5 linked regions of the Homo sapiens genome follow. The protein of the gene in region 5 purifies or fractionates together with the protein of the main gene of each other region. This does not show direct contact. Each region holds a gene or a part of one and is shown on either strand. Other genes may lie near its edges.

Evidence for each region.
Region 1: the proteins of SLC26A2 (region 5) and POPDC2 purify together in Homo sapiens (co-immunoprecipitation; one large-scale study listed by IntAct). This does not show direct contact.
Region 2: the proteins of SLC26A2 (region 5) and TMEM63C fractionate together in Homo sapiens (co-fractionation; one large-scale study listed by BioGRID). This does not show direct contact.
Region 3: the proteins of SLC26A2 (region 5) and CYB5A purify together in Homo sapiens (affinity purification with mass spectrometry; one large-scale study listed by BioGRID and IntAct). This does not show direct contact.
Region 4: the proteins of SLC26A2 (region 5) and ACKR3 purify together in Homo sapiens (co-immunoprecipitation; one large-scale study listed by IntAct). This does not show direct contact.

What each region holds. Positions count from the first base shown.
Region 1 is NC_000003.12:119,657,771-119,662,366, forward strand, and holds the start of POPDC2 (popeye domain-containing protein 2), read right to left. Parts: upstream 2,820-4,596; 5' UTR 2,654-2,819; coding exon 2,163-2,653; intron 1-2,162. UniProt on the Homo sapiens protein: Important for the maintenance of cardiac function.
Region 2 is NC_000014.9:77,247,463-77,251,336, reverse strand, and holds part of TMEM63C (osmosensitive cation channel TMEM63C), read right to left. Parts: intron 2,991-3,874; coding exon 2,828-2,990; intron 2,571-2,827; coding exon 2,465-2,570; intron 2,047-2,464; coding exon 1,879-2,046; intron 1-1,878.
Region 3 is NC_000018.10:74,281,814-74,285,687, forward strand, and holds part of CYB5A (cytochrome b5), read right to left. Parts: intron 1-3,874.
Region 4 is NC_000002.12:236,576,141-236,580,014, reverse strand, and holds part of ACKR3 (atypical chemokine receptor 3), read right to left. Parts: intron 1,009-3,874; exon of another isoform or gene 947-1,008; intron 1-946. UniProt on the Homo sapiens protein: Atypical chemokine receptor that controls chemokine levels and localization via high-affinity chemokine binding that is uncoupled from classic ligand-driven signal transduction cascades, resulting instead in chemokine sequestration, degradation, or transcytosis.
Region 5 is NC_000005.10:149,981,258-149,985,131, forward strand, and holds part of SLC26A2 (sulfate transporter), read left to right. Parts: coding exon 1-556; 3' UTR 557-3,874. UniProt on the Homo sapiens protein: Sulfate transporter which mediates sulfate uptake into chondrocytes in order to maintain adequate sulfation of proteoglycans which is needed for cartilage development.

The sequences.
Region 1 (4,596 bases), on a different chromosome or scaffold from region 5:
TTTATCATCTGTTTCTTCTTCCTTCTTGATCTACTGGAAGATGGATGATCTTCTCCTAAATGAATAGCTTAGATAGTTAGTTGCCTGCTCAGGGGGTTGTATATATGGAAGTTTGTGTTTTGAATTTTATATGAGAGAAACGTCTAAGTTAAGCGCTGCTTAACAGGGTGATAGACTTTGAGAAAGTCACTTTCCCTCTCTGAGTTTTGAAAGAGATTGGTTTCCTTTATTAAAACAAAACAAAAAGACTTCTGAGGTTTGAGTGAAGGACTCTAGAGAACAGTGTGCATGTGAGATGTGGAAGTCTGCACAAGAGTCCCCACTTCCTGGCACAAAGTTCTTGTCTGCTGCTTTGAGATGTTTGGTCCCTTACTGTAACCAGCCCAAGGTTCAGTGATTCTCCTTTAAAACTAGAGCCCAGTCATAGACTAGAAGCCTTTTCCTCTATGTCCAGCTCAGCAAAGCTGAGACAGGGTGACACTGAAAGATAACAAAACTCTTACTCCAAACCTTGAAAGGCAGGAAAAAAAAAAATCAAAATTGTCTAATTTCTGACTCAGCCTTTTGATGCTAAGTATACCAGGAAAAGCTACACCAAGGGCAAGCCCCCCTCTCCCCTTCACTGGGAAGTGATCTTATACAAGTTCACAGTAAATCTATCCTAACTGAACTATACAGTAACCATACATGCTTCCAGCAAATGGGCACCCTACACTGGAGGGAGCACTTCTGCTGCTCTCAATTTCCTCCTTTGAACAGACGAGCTATAACATCATGGGTCTCATGAATGAGCAAGTTCCCTAAATTGTCTTTAAGCATGGAACTATAGGTGCAAACATTTTCACAATAGTTATATGTATTTGTATTTACATCTATATCTGTTTACAAATAATCGCATTGGTTTACACTTTCAGTTCACCAATAAATGAAATGAAATGTACCCTCACAAAATGTCTCCCCTCCTAGCTCACTCTATCCAGGACCTCTGAGTTCAAACAAAATCAAAACATATATACATGATACTTCAGGTTCTATAAATGAATACACAAACACGTATTATTACTATTAGTGGTAGTTGTAGTACCATTAGCATCATTGTCAAACTTTTTTCTCCATTGTGTGGTTGGCAGTATTATCTGGATTTGCTTTTTTTTTTTTTTTTTCTTGGAATTGGAGCCTTCTAATTGCCATCTTACCTTTTCTATCACATTCTCCTGGTCTCAAGAAAGCTGGTGGAGTGGGGGTTGTGGGGCTCAAGAGCCACTAGGGCAGTATAAAAAAATCCACAATTGCCTACTAAGTGTGTAGCACAGAGCCCCGTGATGTTTTCTCAGAAGAAATCAATGCCCAACATTCACATCCAGGTTGACTGGGCATACACTGATCCTGACTAAGACCATTTCTGCCCATATCTGACTGTCAGCCTTCTCCAAAAGAGGCGGTGCTTCCACAAAAGCCTTGATGAGATAGGTGTATCACTTCTCTTCTCCCATTGTTGGGCCCTCAGATTTACAGTACTGTACTTGACTTCTTAGTCTTCAAGAACCTCAATAGAACAACTGGAAATGGAAAGGTGGGCAAGGGGTATTCACTCTCCCTACCTGGCTACATACAGCTACCCCAAACACAAGTGGGGCTGTTTGCTTGATGCCTTGGCAGGGAACAGGGGTTATGAGAACCACCCCGCTATCCCGACCTCCCATTTCTGGCATTGTTCCCTGAATACAGTTGGTGCTTAGCAAATGTTGAATTTGAGTAAGGAACAGATTAACCTTATTGAAATGTTAGTTTTTCAAAGCTTACAGAGATATTGCTGCAGCTTAGGCATGACACACTGATATGTGTGTGGTGATGGTAGAGGGGTTATTTAAGGCCCAGGCTCAAGACACACGCACTGCACACCTTCCAGCAGCAAGTGCACATACAATCATTCTTGCCAACCAAGATGCCTCATGAACTGGTTTCTTCTTGGAAAATGCCAAGAAAGAGGAAGCAACCCCACTCTTAGAAAAATCTATTTTGGTTTGTTTGACTTGTCACATCCTTCCCTCAATGGAAGGGGACACGAAATGGAAAGGGACATGAAATGGAAAGGGACACACTAGGAAATGAGAAGTGTGGGCTGGGGAAAGAAATTCTGGGCAATGGATAGAGTAGCTTACCGGCCAGAGAGCAGCAGGGACAGGCGGTTGATGGGTGTCTCACCCTCCACAGCATAGGTCTGTTCAGTGGCCAGAGTTAAGACCTGCTCCTCGCAGCAGTGAACAATCTCCTTGTATGTCTGTAGGGGCACCTGCAAGGGCAGGCACAGCGTCTTGTAGAGGAGGTCAAACTCCTCAGGGAGGGTGTCCTCACGCAGGCGGTATACCAGGTGTGCCAGCTGGAGCAGGCAGACCACAGCCAGCAGGAAGCTCCAAAGAACAATGTCCAGGCCACAGGCACTGAACCAGCCCCACAGCACGCAGCACAGGTAACCTGCACTCAGGAAGCCAAAAAGATAGAAGCATCCATACACCCCACTGCCCCCCATGAAGCCCAGGAGTAAGAGGCAGTTGGCTAGGTGGTAGACAGCCCCTTCCACATCCTGCTTCCACCTAATGCACGCTGAACCCTGCAAGAGAAGCTGGCCCACTCTGCTGCTGTTGGCGCTCATCTTTGGGGCCTCTCAAAGCCTCACTGGGCTCTAATACTGTCCTCACATAGGAAATTCAGAAAATGAATGAATCCATCCGCTCAGGGGTCTTCTCACCTCCGGCTTCTCACTACCGACTCCACCTTTCCTAGAAGGAATGCTTCCGGTGGCTTTGGGAAGGAATGATGGAACATAGTACACTTCATGGAGAATTTAAAAACCTCTTTCTCTCTCTCTCTCTCTCTCCCCCTCTCCCCCCCTCTCTCCTCCCCACCACCCCCGCTGTCTCAGCAAGGCTCTGGCTCTCCCTGCAGAGCTCTGGCAAGCTTCCTTGGTTCCATGTTTCTTGGGAGTCTTCAAATTTGGTTCTTAGCAGAAAAACCTAAATAGTCCCAAGGGAAAGTAGCACTACAGGACTGAAAAGTCCAGCAGCGTGGGATGATGCGGCCACATCCTGCTCTCTGTTTTTCCCAAGCAGAATGAGGAGAGCCAGCATGGGAGGCACATTTGTGTTCCATTTGGAATGTGTTCTCTCTTGGCACCGGAAGAAAGGGTGACCCCAGATGGATACCATGTTTGGAATTGGAATCCAAGAGGTACTGGCAGTGAGAAAAAACAGGCCAGGCACAGGCAGCCTGGCAGAGCACTTAACATACCTCCCAGAGGACAAGATAAGACCTCAGGGTCAGAGAGACAGACAAGGAGAGAGAAAGGAAAAGTGAGCACAGAATTCACCTGAACACCTCAGGCAGGAAACTGTCCCGAGCTCCCTTTGGGGAGAGCCAGACAGTGCTTCTGAGTGAGGACACATCAGAGTAGGAAAGTATGGGACTATTATCAGAAAAAATCCTAACAGTGAAAGCTGGAAAACCCCCTGAAGGCCTTTATTAAGTCACACTGCAAATATCATTATGTATTTATTTGACATCCATTTAACAAAAGTAGCTATGTAAAGTGGCTTTTTGAATTCTAAGCTGGCTTTCCCCTGCATATATCTGGATCTGGTAATAGTAAACAAATAATAATACATTGCCCAGATCATCATCCCACCCACTCCGGTGCTTCCAAATTATAATTCCCACCTATTAAACACCCATGAAGTGCCAAACCTAGATTAGGCATTTTATACACTTATAAGTTAGTTGTGACAACAATCCTTCAAAATAAATATTATTCTCCTTCTAGATCTGGAAGAAACTGAGGCTCAGAGAGGTAACAAGCTCCCACAGATGGTCTAAGTGGCAGAGCCAGGATTTGAACCCAAGTCTGTCAAACTTAATACTCTGTCCCAAGGGGTTTGCCAGTAAGTGGAAGTACAGTACTAGATCCATGACTCCCAACTCCACACTTCTATGAAGTCTGACAATTTTCAAGGAACTTCTGGTTGAACCTAGGAATCTACTTTGGGCTGCCAAGAGATAAAGCTGGAGTATGCAAACATTAGGCTAAGAAATGTTAGTTGGGCACAGTGGCTTACGCCTATAATCGCAGCACTTTGGGAGGCTGAGGCGGGTGGATCACCTGAGTGAGGCTGGAGTTCGAGACCAGCCTGGCCAACATGGTGGAAACCCTGTCTCTACTAAAAGTATAAAAATTAGCTGGGCGTGGTGGCGGGCACCTGTAGTCTCAGCTACTGGGGAGGCTGAGGCACAAGAATCTCTTGAACCTGGGAGTCAGAGGCTGTGGTGAGCCAAAATTGTGCCACTGCATTCTAGCCTGGGTGACAGAGCAAGATTCTGTCAAAAAAAAAAAAAAAAGGAAGGAGAAGAAAGAAGGAAAGAAGGAAGGAAGGAAGGAAGGAAGGAAGGAAAGAAAGAAAGAAAGAAAGAAAGAAAGAAAGAAAGAAAGAAAGAAAGAAAGAAAGAAAGAAAGAAAGAAAGAAAAAGAAATGTGACTCTCTGGATTCCAAATGACTCCTTGATTCTTCCTCCCTGCTGCTGGGTTAGCACTTACTCCCATTACTC
Region 2 (3,874 bases), on a different chromosome or scaffold from region 5:
TGGGAATATTTGATCCCTTTTTTACGGCAGCAGTTTTCTAACTAGGTAAATGTTGTTTAAATTATGCTTTACAGCCAAAAATCACTGCTTAATGATGCTTACTGCAGTGTTTTTATAGTAGCAAAAAGTGGCAAACCTCAATATCCAATCACGGAGAACTGACTAAAACTGGTAGACTTTCATGCAACCGCTGAAAGGCACCTACGTGTTCAGTCTTTTAACAACCTAGGAAATTGCTCAGAACATTGTGTTCAGTACAAAACCTCAGGGTACAGGACTGAATGTTACAATATGGACTATCGCAGTTTTGCAAAGTAACAATAGACCAACTGCTCCCTCTCAATGTTCCCATGCCCAAAGCCCCAAAGCGCATGCCTGGAAAGGGGGCTGGGAACAAAAGACATCAGGTTCTGGGTAAGATGATGGGTCATTTACATGTTGGTCTTTATATTTTTTCTATTTTTGATGATAAACATGCAGTCCTTTATTCTTAGAAAAAAAGCATTATGGAAAAAATGAAGTCTCTGGGGTGGCAGGGAAAGGCTAGCGGGATAAGCAATTGGGGGTGATGGCAAATGGGTAAGCCACATAAATGACTGAGAGTCGACCGTATGGATGCCACCATGGCAGGGAGAGAAAAGAAAACACTGCCTCGGATTGCCTGAGCTCAGGAGTTCGAGACCAGCCTGGGCAACATGGTGAAACCCTGTCTCTACTAAAATACAAAAAATTAGCGGGGCGTGGTGGCACCCGCCTGTAGTCCCAGCAACTCAGGGGGCTGAGGCAGGAGAATAGCTTTAACCCGGGAGGCGGAGGTTGCAGTGGGTCGAGATCAGGCCACTGCACTCCAGCCTGGGCGACAGAGCGAGACTCCGTCTCTAAAAACAAAAGAAAAAAAAAAAAAAAGAAAGAAAACACCGCGTCTCCCTTCTCCCACCACTGAGAAGGTTAAGGTCAGGTGTCTGAGGGAAGGGCAGTGGGGTTGGGGGTTGCTGGGGGTTAAGGTGCCTCCAACGGGGAGAAAGCTGAGAGATTTCTAATCTGTGGCCTGCAGGGACTGCTTCTGGGAGGGTGTCTCTGAGCTCCCCTGGGCAGGAGCAGTAGCTGTGTGTAGCTAAAGAGTGAGGAAAAAGCTGGCCCCTACTGCAGGCTCTGTTTCCTCTTCCAGGTTTTTTGGCAACCCATAAAGCCAGGCATCTACCACTAGGCACCGGCGGCTTACGCTTATAATCCCAGCACTTTGGGAGGCCTAGGCCAGGGGATCGCTTTAGCCCAGAAATTCCAGACCAGACTGGGCAACATAGTGAGACCTCATCTCTACAAAATTAAAAACAATTAGCCAGTCATGACAGCTCACGCCTGTAGTCCCAGCTACTGGGGAGGGGGAAGTGGCAGAATTGCTTGAGACCAGGAGGTCAAAGCTGTAGTGAGCCGTGATCGCGCCACTGTACTTCAGTCTAGACGACAGAGCAAGATTCTGATTCAAAAAATAAAATTAAAAAACAAAACAAAAAACCAGGCATCTTATGGGATCCCAGAGGAAATGTCATGGGAACTGAGCCTCCCAATAGCTGATACTCTATTTTCCACCCGTCTAGACTTAGAAAGAAGGAATATGAGGTTTCCTTCCCTGAGCGCTGGAAACCCAAATCCACACCTGGGGACCATGTTGGTCCAGGGCCTCCTCTTAGCCTTGAAGCTCAGCTGAGACTCTAATGTAGGCCCTTTAGGCCCAGAGAAGTCACTGGGTGTGGCCAGGTCTGGTGAGCAGCGTCTTGCCCTGCCTGGGCTTTTCTCCTCTAACAGGGTCAGTGTTAAGGGACTCACAGAACAGTGGGGCAGGTGGAGGTGGGGTCTCCAGGCTGGCTTGGTACCTACCCAACCGCAGGATGGAGAAGAACAGCATCCAGAACAGACCCAAGAGTGGCGCAAAGATGGCCTGGGAGACGGCAGCCATGTGGATCTGCTCGTTCAGTTTGGTGGGTGCAAAGGAGTAGTACATGTTATAGCGATCCGTCAAGTGCTTCATGCACAGGTAGAGCAACCCTGGGGGACAAAGGTGGAAACTTACTCAGTGGCCCCTTCAAGTCTGGACCTTTGTGGCTCCAGTGTCTCCACAGGCCTGAGAAGCCAGATCCACGGCTGTCAGAGTCACAACAACCAAGGATGGGTTGGGGGAGCTCCGTGGTACTGACCTCCGGAGCCAGCAGCTTCCCTTGAGCCCCGAGAACTGACTGTTTCAGCTTGGTGAAGAGTCATTCTCTCATGCGTTCATTCAACAAACATCCCCCATCGGCAGCCATCCAACCTCAGCTGCCCTGTACCCCCAGCTTGGCCCTGGCCCTGACCCCTCCCTACCACAGGTCTCCCCATGCTCCAGGAGGTGGACTGATGTTGTGAGGCTCAATTCCTCCTCCCCATCTGCGGATGTGCAGCCCTTGGGCATGCCTTGGAGATGACTCACCAAAAGGCACAATGATGGGGCAAGTGATGCTGTACGCCATCACCACGCTGAACACGTTCATCATCCACGCATACTCACGCCCAAACTGGAAGTCTATGGCCTGGTTCTGGGGCAGAAGGCAGGTGTCACCCTGAGGTGGCCCAGTCCCCTTGGCTTGACTACTTCTGTGGCTCCTCATCAGCCTCCTGGCAGCTCAGGCCTGGAGGCAGCCTCCTTTCCAACCCTGTAGACCAAGGTGCCCCACCAACACCCATCCACACCGTCCCTCCCACCTCAACCCCCTTGGTGCTTCTAGCAGGCTCTATCCCTGACACCCTCCCAAAGGAAACTGAGGGCTGTGCTCAGCGGAGAGCCAGTCTGTACCTTTCTGATGTTGACTCTCTCTGGCTCTGATCTAGAGAAGAAGAGGCGGGTGCTGTAGCAGAAGAGTGACCCCAGACGCAGCAGCTCCATGCCTGTGCCAAGTAAAGCTGCCGTGATCACGTAGTTGACAAAGAAGGCGCCGTTGTCTGGCAGGAACACACACCTGGGCAGTGAGGGAGAGGGAAGGTGGCAACAGAAGCCACAGGGAGAGGGAGAGATGTTAAAAGGGAGGAGAGAGAGGAGAGCAGCAGAGGGAATGGGAATCGGAGTGGAGATACAGATACAGACAAGGAGAATAACATTTCCTCTCTTTCTTTTTCTCTGTCTCTCTCCTATAATATATATGTCCCCAACCCAATGAAGTTAACAAGCAGTCCCCTGAGCAGGGAGGGGCAGGGACCACATAAAGCATGGGTGTGTTAGGGGATACATGCATTGGCTTGATCCAAAGCAAGGGTGTCTGAGCCAGGTCCAAAGACTCGGGAGAATCCATGAGTGGGTTTCTGGGGGGTCTGTAAACTAGGATGGGAAAAAATAACATCTTTATTTTCACTAATCTCTAACTGAAATTTAGCATTTTCTTGCATTAAGAATGTGGGCAATACGGCAGGGCATGGTGGCTCACACCTGTAGTCCCAGCACTTTGGGAGGCCGAGGTGAGCAGATCACCTGAGGTCAGGAGTTTGAGACCAGCCCAGCCAACATGGTGAAACCCCATCTCTACTAAAAAATACCTTGAAGGATTCTGGTCCTTGCCTTATAGAGCAAGTTATGGAAGTTTGCATGTCATTTGCAACATATCTTTGAAAATTGGGATTCTCAACACTTGTTATCACTAAAACAAAAAAATCGAAATTGGCAGAATGTCCCACGTGGTCTGCATGTTGCTTTGTCAATGATCCCCCCTAGTTTAATATTCTTATTCCAATAAGTAATATCAGTTTTTATACTGATGTTTTTAAGACAGTAAAATGTAACTTTAGCTTGCTTATATAAAAAATGCAATATTGGTTGGGTGTGGTGGCTCAAGCCTGTAATCCCAGCATT
Region 3 (3,874 bases), on a different chromosome or scaffold from region 5:
AGAGGAGGGTGTGTGTGTGTGTGTGTGTGTTTTGCAGGAAAGGAGAAAACAGCAGGAACACTGATGAGAATAACCCAGCAGGGTGTGGCCTGGAGGGGCCTGGTTTATACTGGGGAACATCGGGTGGCTTAGGGAATGTCTGTGAGTGGGAAGGGGAACAGGATCTCAGGCACAGGTGGAGGCCCGGGCTCTGGGCAGGAAGAGACTGGAAAATGCAGACCAAAGTGCTCCCCTCACCTTTAATTCTCCTCTTCCCTTCTACTGACTGCCTGGGAGCCTCCCTCGATGCCATTCTTGTGTTCCATGCTCTGAGACTATGTCACAATCCAGACTTTCACAATACAGTCCCACTAGTTTCTAACTGTGCAATCCTCAGGGACAAAATCCCAGGCCAAGGCCTACAGAGTAAGAAGAGATCACACTAGCATGTGCCGTGTGTGGAAAAAGGGGGTAAAATAAGATAGTCACAGAGCAGGGACTTGTGTCTGTTTCTCCACCAGGCTCTCCTCTTCCATCCTGGGAAGTTACTTTCTGGCACCGGACAAGGGCCACAGAGTAAGAAGGGATCACACTAGTATGCACTGTGTATGGAAAAAGGGGGAAAAAAATAAGATAGTCACAGAGCAGGGGCTCGTATCTGTTCCTCCACCAGGCTCTCCTCTTCCATCCCCGGAAGAGTGACTTCCTGGCACCGGACATGGGCCAGGTGCACAGCAGGCGGGCAGGCAGGAGCCCTCATCGCGTGGAAAAAGCAGCATATCACAGCCGGGAGGGTCTAACTGCTAGCAGAGGCACAAAACGGGATGGGACACCATGCTGAGACCTGAACAGGGCCAAGCCTGACACAGGGGAAACCAGGGCAAAGGTTTCAAGGTAAAAACAAGTTTGGCTTGTTTGAGAAACAAAGAGAAAGGGTCAATGTGATCAGGTGTGGGCATTAGCAGGGAGGACACAGTGTTATTTGCTGAGGTGGGGGAGGTAGGTAAGGACCAGATCATTCAGAGCTTTCCAAACCAGGGCAAAGAGATACAATTTTATTCTAAATGCAACAGGAAGCCATTGAAAGGAACTGAACAGAAAAAGGACAATCTGTTTCCAAAAGATCAAGTTTTTTTTGTGTGCTTCTCCTAGAAATCACACTTTTCAATGCCATAAATAGCATTTATTACTCAAGCTGAAAACTCATAAAACCACCACCCATTTGATGGAACCAATGAAATCCTGAGAACTGACTGCCCAGTGGCCACCATGAGAGGTGGCAAAGATACAAGAGAGGCCACACCAGGGCATCTGCTCTCAGCTTGGAGGAGAAAGATATTCTAACCACCCTGCAACCAACCTCGTGGCACATGCAGAGGGGATATGGACCCGGAAGGGGAGGGCGAGAGATGAGCGGGACCCACTGAGGGATTTATCAGAGCAGGAACCTCCTCGGATTTCCATTTAAACAATCCTTCCCAGGGCAGTCATTTAAGATGCCTTTCACCAAACAACACATGCCTCCTCACACATACCCACTACACGTGCAAACAATCTCTTTCCGAACCAAAACCACACCGATGATTCAGCCCCTGCCAGGTGAGAGCAGCATCTGGGTCACAAACAAACTGAGGCCGTGAAGACTCCACCCCGACTCCCTCTATTTAAAAATTCCTCTACAAGAAACAGGAATGGCTGTTTCCTTCACCTCCTAGAAGGCAACATAGTAAACTGACAACAGATGGAAAGAAAGGCATATTTTTGTCCATTAACTTTCCAAGGGTTTTGGCTTTGTTCAGATATTTGCATCACAAATTCCCTTTGCTTTCTCCCTGGTTCCTCCAGAGAACTCTCCAGTGATCAAGGTCTCCAGCAAATGACAGCAACTCTGTATCAGTGGGATGCACTTTTGCTTTTAAAGCTACGCTAGGTTCTCATCAATACTCCTTGGATCTCAAGCCTCAGCAACAGACTCAGCACTGAAGACACTGGGTCGCAGCGCCCGCAGCCTGGACTGAAGCCCTGGCTTTGCTCCTTATCGTCTGTGGGACTTGCTGAGCAAGCTGCAAAATCTCCCTAAGACATACCGTCTTACCTTTAAAAGGGAGGACACAATCACCACTGACCCCATAGGGTTGTTTTGAAGATTAAAAGCACAGGCCGGGCGCAGTGGCTCACACCTGTAATCTTAGCACTTTGGGAGGCCGAGGCGAGTGGATCACTTGAGGTCAGGGGTTTGAGACCAACCTGACCAACATGGTGAAACCTCATCTCTAATGAAAATACAAAATTAGTCAGCCTGGTGGTGCATGCCTGTAATCCCAGCTACTTGGGAGGCTGAGGCAAGAGAATCGCTTGAACTTGGGAGGTGGAAGGTTGCAGTGAGCCGAGATTGCACCATTGCACTCCAGCCTGGGCAACAACAGTGAAACTCCATCTCCAAAAAAAAAAAAAAAAAAAAGAGAGATTAAAAGCACAAACGCAAAGAAGGTTTTATGTGCAAAAAGCACTTGGCACACTCCCTAGCACATACTGAATGTCCATAAACATTCAGCCAACGTCCACTGCTATCACTTTTCTTATTAGCTCACTAGGGATTGTTGGGGAGGGGAGGATTAAAGAATAGCATTTACTTGGGGACGATTAATGAATGGCATTTACTTAATTAACACTTTCTGAGGAAGACGAGGGAAAGAAGTCTGGATATATTTTGTGACCTGGCTAATTCTGGACACAGCTGCACAAAGCTTAATGAATAGGTCTGCCAAGAACAAACAATAGCAGGCAGTGAAAGAAACAAGCTGCAAACTGACACTCCCCAGGCCCTCAACTACAGAAGAGTTCAAGTGATTCCATTTCAGACAGGCTCCCGTGCCCACCAGCCAGGCAGAGAGGACCCTTAACTGAGCCTAGAGGCTGTTAATCACCCCATCCCTTCCCTTAGGTCCACATCCCTTATCCCTCGCCCCCTCCAGAGCCTCCCCAGCGTCAGTGCTGGTTCAGATGCCATCATTTTGGCATGGGCCTGCTAGAGACAGAATTCTACGGATGTAAGAAAGTAACTTCTTGCCATCATCCACAGAGCCGTCAGCTCTAAGCCAACAGGCAGCACAGGCCAGATTCTATTCAACAGCAAGAACGGAGCTGTCCCCACCCAATCTTCAGCTCACCCTCCCGGTCCCCATGTTGGAACTCAGTAAAAGGCACAGATACCCAGTTACTATATACACTCAAGACTATGTTCCCAAGAAAACTAGGTCCAAGGGTAATAGGAAAGGAAGCACACTTGATTAAAATGTTCTGTTTTTCAGAATTAAGGGCAATGAATTTCAACACCCATACTCTGTTCCTCTATCCCCAAGCCTTGGAAAGCACTGGTCTATGCAATGTAGGCAGCCATGTTCAAAGGAAAATAACAAAGAGCAAGTCCCTACAACAAAACCTGCTAGAAAGGACACTCTTGAGACTCCAGAAATGGCTCTGAGCCTGCTACTCAGTTTCCCATGTAGTCAGCTGCTGCCTCCGGTCACTTTTCTGATGCTTTGAGCCTTCAGACAATGAAATTCTTTCATAGAATAGACAAGGTATTACTTGCCACAGCTTCACTTTTAAGAGAATTTATAAGCTAAAGGGGATAAAAAATTATTCCATACATTTCCCTTTTTAACAGAAGTACACAGCCAAATTCAGGAAGGGAGGTGAATGAGGCGCAACCAAGTTCCTCCACTCCTAAGAACCGAGAAATGCACACACTGGTGTGCCACCCCAGGGTGCTCTGGTAACATCCATCAAAATTTAGAGTGGCTCATGCCTGTAATCCCAGCACTCTGGGAGGCCAAAGGGGGCAGATCACTTGAGCCTAGGAGTTCGAGACCAGCCTGGGCAACAAGAGACT
Region 4 (3,874 bases), on a different chromosome or scaffold from region 5:
AATGGCAGGGTTGTCCTCTCCTGGCACTGCTGTATTACAAGTGTCCTGCTTTGGTGTCTTAATGAAAGCATTTCAAATCCTCCTCCAAATTTGCATTTATAATGTGACTCAGCACTTTTTACTTGTCTGCTAAATTCACATATAAACCTGGGTCTCAGGCGGCCCCAGTGTGCAGTCATAAAGCCTCTGGAAACACAGTGAGCCTACGCAGGGTGCCCCACAGCTTAACTGCGCCCCAAACCTGAAGACTCTGGGTTGGCCGTGTGGTTTTCAACGAAGGGCAACCAACCAGCTGTCTCAAGCTTTGGGTCAGCACCTGTTTTTCCATTCCTTTATTTGTTCAACTGCTTCAACAGCAAGGTGTGCCAAGACTCAAAACACAAAAATCACCACCTGCTGCATTTCAGGAGGGCTGACCATTTTCCCAACTGTTTTCCCTGCTGACCTGAGGTGAGACCAACACTCCATCACCATTTCACTCCCAGCCAGAATTCAGCCACGGGGTACCATTGTTATCTGGCACTGATTTCTTCAGATAGACTGACAGGGGCTGTCTTCTACTGTCAGTCCGCCCATGGGAAGGCCCTGAAATCCCTCCAGGCCACAGTCCTGGGTCAGCAATTAGCCCTGCCTGAACCCCACTGTAAAATGAAAACCTCAGCCCAAGGATGCACTGTTGACAGTGACATAGTCAGGTGGTTGCCCTTCCCCCTCACCTGTCCCAGGTAATGACTGGCCTAGAGTCAAGACATTATTTACCGAGTTCATTTAAAGTGGATTCCAGGTTACATATGAGAATTTCCTGGAGGATCAAGGACAAGGGTCAGGGGATCAGGGTCCGGGTGGCTACGCTAGCGGTATGCAAAGCCACAGCTGGGAAGCCGCCCACTCCGAGATCAGACATTCCTGGGTTGGGATTCTGGCTCCTCTATTCATTAGCATTTACCTTGAGAGTTAATCTGTCTGCATCTACCTCCCCAGGACAGCAGCACCTATCTCACAGATACCCTAAGAAGAAAGAAGAAAGGGCCTAATTGAGAGCTTGGCCCTAGCCGATGCTCAATAAAACGTCACCCCCTTCTCCCTCCCTGGCCAGGAAGAAAGAACCCTGGGGATTCTCCCACCTAAGGGAGCGGTTTTTCCCTTCAGCAAAAAGCAGAACCTTGTTTAATTCTATTCCCCTGGAAACCTGGCTCTCACTGGCTGAGTAGTAAATGCCCCCGGGGGAGCTCGCACAGAGACTGGGTTGTTTGATGGGCTTCTCCTTTGGGACAACTTGAACAGAATCCCTGAAAAGTGAGAAATTTCGCGGCCTCGGCTCCACAGCCTCCACATTCACAGCAGAGGACCTGGCGTGAACCCCACTTAGCGGAGACTGTTGCGGGCTTCTGGGCACTTCCCTCTGCGGGATGTAAATGACTGTGGGGTCCCCTCCTCGTGACCTAACCTGACTCAGTGTCCTCCACGGCTGACAGAAAGGGCTGGGCCTCCCAAGACAGCCGCATCCCCTCCACACTCTGAAAGCCTTCCATGGAGGGAACCACGCTGGTCCTGCAGCGGGAGGCCTGGCCGTCCTCAGAGTCACCCACTAGGAGGAATCAAGCCCTGTGACCACGGACTTATGACAAGCCCTGATGCCCAAGCATGGGAGGCTGCCCATGGAGGTGAGCCAGGTCAAGGTCAGGACAGAAACTCAAAGCAGGAGGCTTGGCACACTTGTCCTAAGACGCAGCTCTAGAACTCCAAAAGGACGTAGGCCCAGCAGGGAGCTGAGGACACCCTGTCCTGCCAGACTGCCTCCAGGGTGGACGGGCAACCCCAGGCCGTGCCTTGAAGCTACTATCGCCATCTTTCCTTGGCCACCAAATGACCCAGAGCTGACGTTCCACTCTCCACCCCGTGATGCCAGGAGACAAGGATTTCACCTTTGCTCTCCCCACATGGCTCTACTGCAACAATCCTTGTTCCTTTCTCCCATTTCCTTAAAACGAAACACATTTGCATCATGGCTTGGTTTCCAAAACACTTTCCCCCATGATCTCATCTGACCCCAGAGTCCCGGGGAGCAGAGGAGCTTGAATGGAGGACCGCCCCACAGCTGGGCAGCAGCAGGGACAGCAGCTGGGTCCAGAGGGAGCTCGGCTGGCGCCTGGCTTGGGCTCCCTGCTCTGTCCCCACTGGCACAGCCACACAGCAGAAGCTGCCATAAATCCTGGGGTTTGGGCCATTCACAGGGGCTAGAAAGAAATGACCCTCAGTCTTTGTTCGCCCGAACTTGGATCCCGAATCCGCCCCACCTCTCTCCCCCACCATGGTGACATTCCTCTGGCTCAGGTCTTACTTGCCCTCCAGTGTAGAGACATGTCAGATGCCGGCTGGCCAGGCGCCTGGCCACTGCTCAGCATGGACAGGCCCCAGCAGGAGGCAGGGTCACTCAGTGAGAAGACGCCTGGTTCCCACATCTCGAGTGTGTCCTTCCTTCCAGTTCCTCCACTCTTAGCACAAAATAGACACTCACCCGCTTTGAGCTACCAGCAGCCTTCAGTATTCTCAGAGCCCAGAGTGGGACTGAGAGGTGGAAAAGGGCTCAGGGACCCCCATCCAGCCCTTGGCTTTCTACCTTTGCCTCTTTGGGTGACGAAAATTTGATTTAGGGACCATTGGTCCTCTGAGTCAAAAACAGTATTTCTGAGATAGGCACTTCCCCGCTCAGCCGTCCTCGCCTCTGTCCTTGCTTCTCCCCTCCCGGGTGGCACAGTGGGAAACTTCCAACAAGGGCATGGCTGTTGCTGCCCAAGGGCTGAATGAGAGAGCGGAGGCTGGAGCTCCTCACTGCCCCACCGATCACCGGCCACCTATCATCACTCACCGATCACCGATCCTCAATCATTAACCACCAGTCAGCCCAAGGAACAGCAGCCCACACTGGGGCTGGCCAGGAAACAAAGCCAGAGGCCCACACCCTGACCACCTGCTTTCCTCTCGGGGCCTGGACGGGCCTCTCCCTTCCCACCACCAAAGGTTCCAGGGGTCAGATAGGAAGGAAAGTACAGTGAAAAGGGAGATTAAGCAGACAGTGCAGTCATCAAGTCCTCTGCAAATTCAAATGGGAGCTAAAGAAAACAAAAAACAGAAAAACAAAAATGTCATACTATAGCTTACCCTTTTGTCATTTCGGTATTTTTCATGCATTAGGTTTCAGAAACAAGAGCTGTCTCCAGCAAACAGATTATTATTTGACAAAGACAATCCCCTTATTCAAAATAGGGAACTGCCGTGTAACATGGAAGGTGGCCTGCGACAAAGGCTCTGGCCGCCCCAGCCTGCGTGCAGGACGTTTAGGGTGGGCAGGGCCCACTTTCATTGACCACCATTCACTGATGGTTGTGCGTCCACTATTGGAGCAAAGAATCTTCCTAAATTACCTGCTTAGATCTTAATAAGTGACACTCTCAGAATCCCTGATAGGAACAAAAGCTTCATAGAGCAAACTATGAAATGTGTACCCAGGGCCCCTGGTTCTCAAAAGCCTGGTGACAAAGCTCCCTGCAAAATCTGAAAGTGGAGAGAGGGAGGGAGGCCTCTAATGAACCCCCAGCGGGCCCTGCACAGAAATCACAGGTCCCCTCAAGCAAAAGCAGGGGATTACCTCATCCCATACAGAAAGAGCTGACTGCATTCCGCACAGATCTGGATGGGCCAGCCCTCGGGTCCTTGTATACATTCTTAATGCCTCTCAGCCTGTGCGGGGTCTGTTTACGCTGGGAAGTTGGGAAGGCCGATAGCCACAGGGCCTGAAGGAGACATCCACTTAGACCAGTCACCCTCTGCTGGAATCAACCAGCAATTCCATTCCCGCTTGAGGCCAGGGTCT
Region 5 (3,874 bases):
CTTGGTGGAAGAGTCTGAGGTCTTTGAATCTGTGTCTGCTTACAAGAACCTTCAGATTAAGCCAGGCATCAAGATTTTCCGCTTTGTAGCCCCTCTCTACTACATAAACAAAGAATGCTTTAAATCTGCTTTATACAAACAAACTGTCAACCCAATCTTAATAAAGGTGGCTTGGAAGAAGGCAGCAAAGAGAAAGATCAAAGAAAAAGTAGTGACTCTTGGTGGAATCCAGGATGAAATGTCAGTGCAACTTTCCCATGATCCCTTGGAGCTGCATACTATAGTGATTGACTGCAGTGCAATTCAATTTTTAGATACAGCAGGGATCCACACACTGAAAGAAGTTCGCAGAGATTATGAAGCCATTGGAATCCAGGTTCTGCTGGCTCAGTGCAATCCCACTGTGAGGGATTCCCTAACCAACGGAGAATATTGCAAAAAGGAAGAAGAAAACCTTCTCTTCTATAGTGTGTATGAAGCGATGGCTTTTGCAGAAGTATCTAAAAATCAGAAAGGAGTATGTGTTCCCAATGGTCTGAGTCTTAGTAGTGATTAATTGAGAAGGTAGATAGAAGAATGTCTAGCCAATAGGTTAAAATTTCAAGTGTCCAACATTTCCCAGTTCCACAGTGGGAAATTTTGCACACTTGAAATTTTAACCAAGTGGCTAGATATTATTCCTCCTTTGAAGCTAATGGCATTTGTATATACACACTGCAGCAGAGCTTGTAGCTGGACAGAGTCAAAAAGAAGAAAATACGGTTTCAGGCTTTCTTGCAGATATGAAGTATTCTTGGAATGCAATAAGTATGTATTGAACTGTACTGTAAAGTAGCTCCAAAACTTAATTACTCTCCTGTTTTAGGGGTTATACATTTGGACTGTGCATTCTCCAAGAGATGAAGCGGTGAAGTTGGGATTTACATTGGAAGTGCTGTAGACTTCTTTATGTGGCTCAGTGGAGAGAGGGAAAGAATGTTGCACCTGCTCTAGTACCATAGGTCAAGAGGCTTCTGGATCACAAAGTCATAACTAGACAGGTTTGTTCTTGTAGTTTTCTATCCCCAGTCTTTGCTCCCCAGATGGCAGTAGTTTTTAGTAGGAAAGTGCCATTCCTGTCCTTAAGGCACAGTCTCATCAGAAGTCTAATACCTGGGCAGGTTTATAACATCCTGAGAGCCAGCCTGACATTAGACAGAATACCCTTTGTAATACATTGGAAATTTTTACTCATGCCTTTTTGTTTAGGATAAATAGGTAAGCACAAAGAGCTCTTCAAAATCAGAAAAAACAATAGGAGTCCTTCCTTGTCTTTTCTGTGATCTCTGTCCTTGTTTCTGAGACTTTCTCTACCATTAAGCTCTATTTTAGCTTTCAGTTATTCTAGTTTGTTTCCCATGGAATCTGTCCTAAACTGGTGTTTTTGTCAGTGACAGTCTTGCCAGTCAGCAATTTCTAACAGCATTTTAAATGAGTTTGATGTACAGTAAATATTGATGACAATGACAGCTTTTAACTCTTCAAGTCACCTAAAGCTATTATGCAGGAGGATTTAGAAGTCACATTCATAAAACCCAAGTGCTATGGGTGTATTATTCATGATAGCTGGCCCACAGGTCATGAATTGAGGAGGAATTTGCTTTCAAAAAGCAAGAATGTCCAACACTGAAAGTTTATAGTTTTATATTTGGACCTTGAAAGGTAAGAAAAAACCAGGTTCTCCAAAGTTAGGAATAGGGAACTAATTTATGAAACAGCCATCTTAAAAAAAAAAAAAGTAAACTGCAAAAGTACAAAATCATTTTTCAATCTGTTCCCAGTTTCTAAACAATTTTAAATATTTATGAGAAGCAAACCCTATGTGTAGGGCATCTGTTGGAGTGGGATGCTTTTAGACATATATTAAGTATGTACATGTTTAATATGTATATTTAAAATGCATATATATTTTATTATATCTATATTATCCTATATAGATATATGTAACTTAGCTTTATTGTTAGCTCCATAAGCTGCCAGTGTTGCTTTTCTGTTGGTAGAGCTCTCCCATTTGGTGACATGGAAAATACCTTTCCATTATCACAACAAAGCAGTTGCTCAGTAGAAAGTCTAGATTTCTGTCTTATAGGTGATTTCTGTCTTATAGGTGATTATAATCAAGTGTAGGCTTCCTGAATTTTGACATCCTTTTAGAACTTGGGTCTGGAATTCCAGAAATGTTAATTGCTGCTTGTATTTGTTCTTGTTTGTTTTTTAGCCAGTATTTGCCCTTTCTATCCAGCCTTATGAATAATAGCAGTAAAATCACAGTATCTTGGTCAGTCTTTATTTTTTTCCTTTTTTCTTTTTTAAGAGACAGTCATCCAGGCCAGAGTGCAGTTTGATGATAGCTTACTGAAGCTTCCCACTCCTGGGCTCAAGTTATCCTTCCATTTTGGCCTCCTGAGTAGCTAGACCATAGGTATGCATCACCACACCCTGCTAATTTTTTAAATTTTTTTCTAGAGAGAGGGTCTCACTGTGTTGCCCAGGCTGGTCTCAAACTCCAGGCTCAAGCAATCCTTCAGCCTCAGCCTCCCAGAGTGTTGGGATTACAGGCGTGAGCCACTGCACTTGGCCAAGTTATTTATTTTTAATCTCTCTTGCCCTTCTCCCAAGGCAGGCTTAAGTTGAGACTATTATAGGTGTCTAATAACCTGTGACAGAGTAATGAGTACATGCTTAAGATGTTATAATTAGCCAACACCAACACAGCAAAAAATATAATTCCAGCCAAAGATTCTGGAAAATCCCTCAGAAGGAGGGATAACAGGATTTGACCTTTACCAGCGATTTCTGTCCATATGTGGATGTAAACAGTTCTGGAACGTTATGCATGCAGTTAGCGAATCCTTGAATTATGTTCTGGTTTGTACTTGTCCCATCCATCCAAACAAGAGATTCTGCTTTTGGTAGCCATCTGTAGAAACATTTAAGATGTCACTAGAATTTACATTTCATCCTCTCTACTTGGGTTGAGGTTGCCTATACTTGCATATTGTTAAAATGTTTTGGTTGCTGATATTCAGAGGAATGAAACCTGGAACCAAAGCCTAATTTGCCGATAAAAAAACTGTTTTCGGCCAGGTGCAGTGGCTCATGCCTGTAATCCCAGCACGTTGGGAGGCCGAGGCGGGTGGATCACCTGAAGTCAGGAGTTCGAGACCATCCTGGCTAACACTGTGAAACCCCGTCTCTACTAAAAATACAAAAAATTAGCGGGGCATGGTGGCACGCGCCTGTAGTCCCAGCTACTCAGGAGGCTGAGGCAGGAGAATTACTTGAACCCGGGAGGCGGAGGTTGCAGTAAGCAGAGATTGTGCCACTGGACTCCAGCCTGGGTGACAGAGCGAGACTCCGTCTCAAACAAACAAACAAAAAACTGTTTTCATTTGCTCTCTTGACCAAAGGATAGGACTTTAGTTCTTTAAGCATTATTTTAAACACTATATTGATACAAAAATATCTTGCTTACTCTAAACTTTAGAGTCTAAATGAAGCTTTTTCTCAGTACAAGATTCTGAGTATCATAAAATGGTTATTTAATTGAAACGTAGTGTGGTATACTCTTGATGGTTAGAACTCTTACAGCCTTATTTATTTTTAAGTTTGTTACAGCCAAAGGGTTGGAGTGTGCCAGTGCACAGGTAGACTAAGGAAAACATTATAGAGGAGTGAAGAGAACAGACCATTGAAAAGACTATTATCTGACCAGCGGAGGCAGAAAAGAGAGGAACCCAGTTGAATAGGATCCAATCCCTGGTTAGCCTCTACACAATAATAGGGAGACAAGGATTAGGAGCCATACCTCCCAGAGCAAGGTATCTTTCTAGAG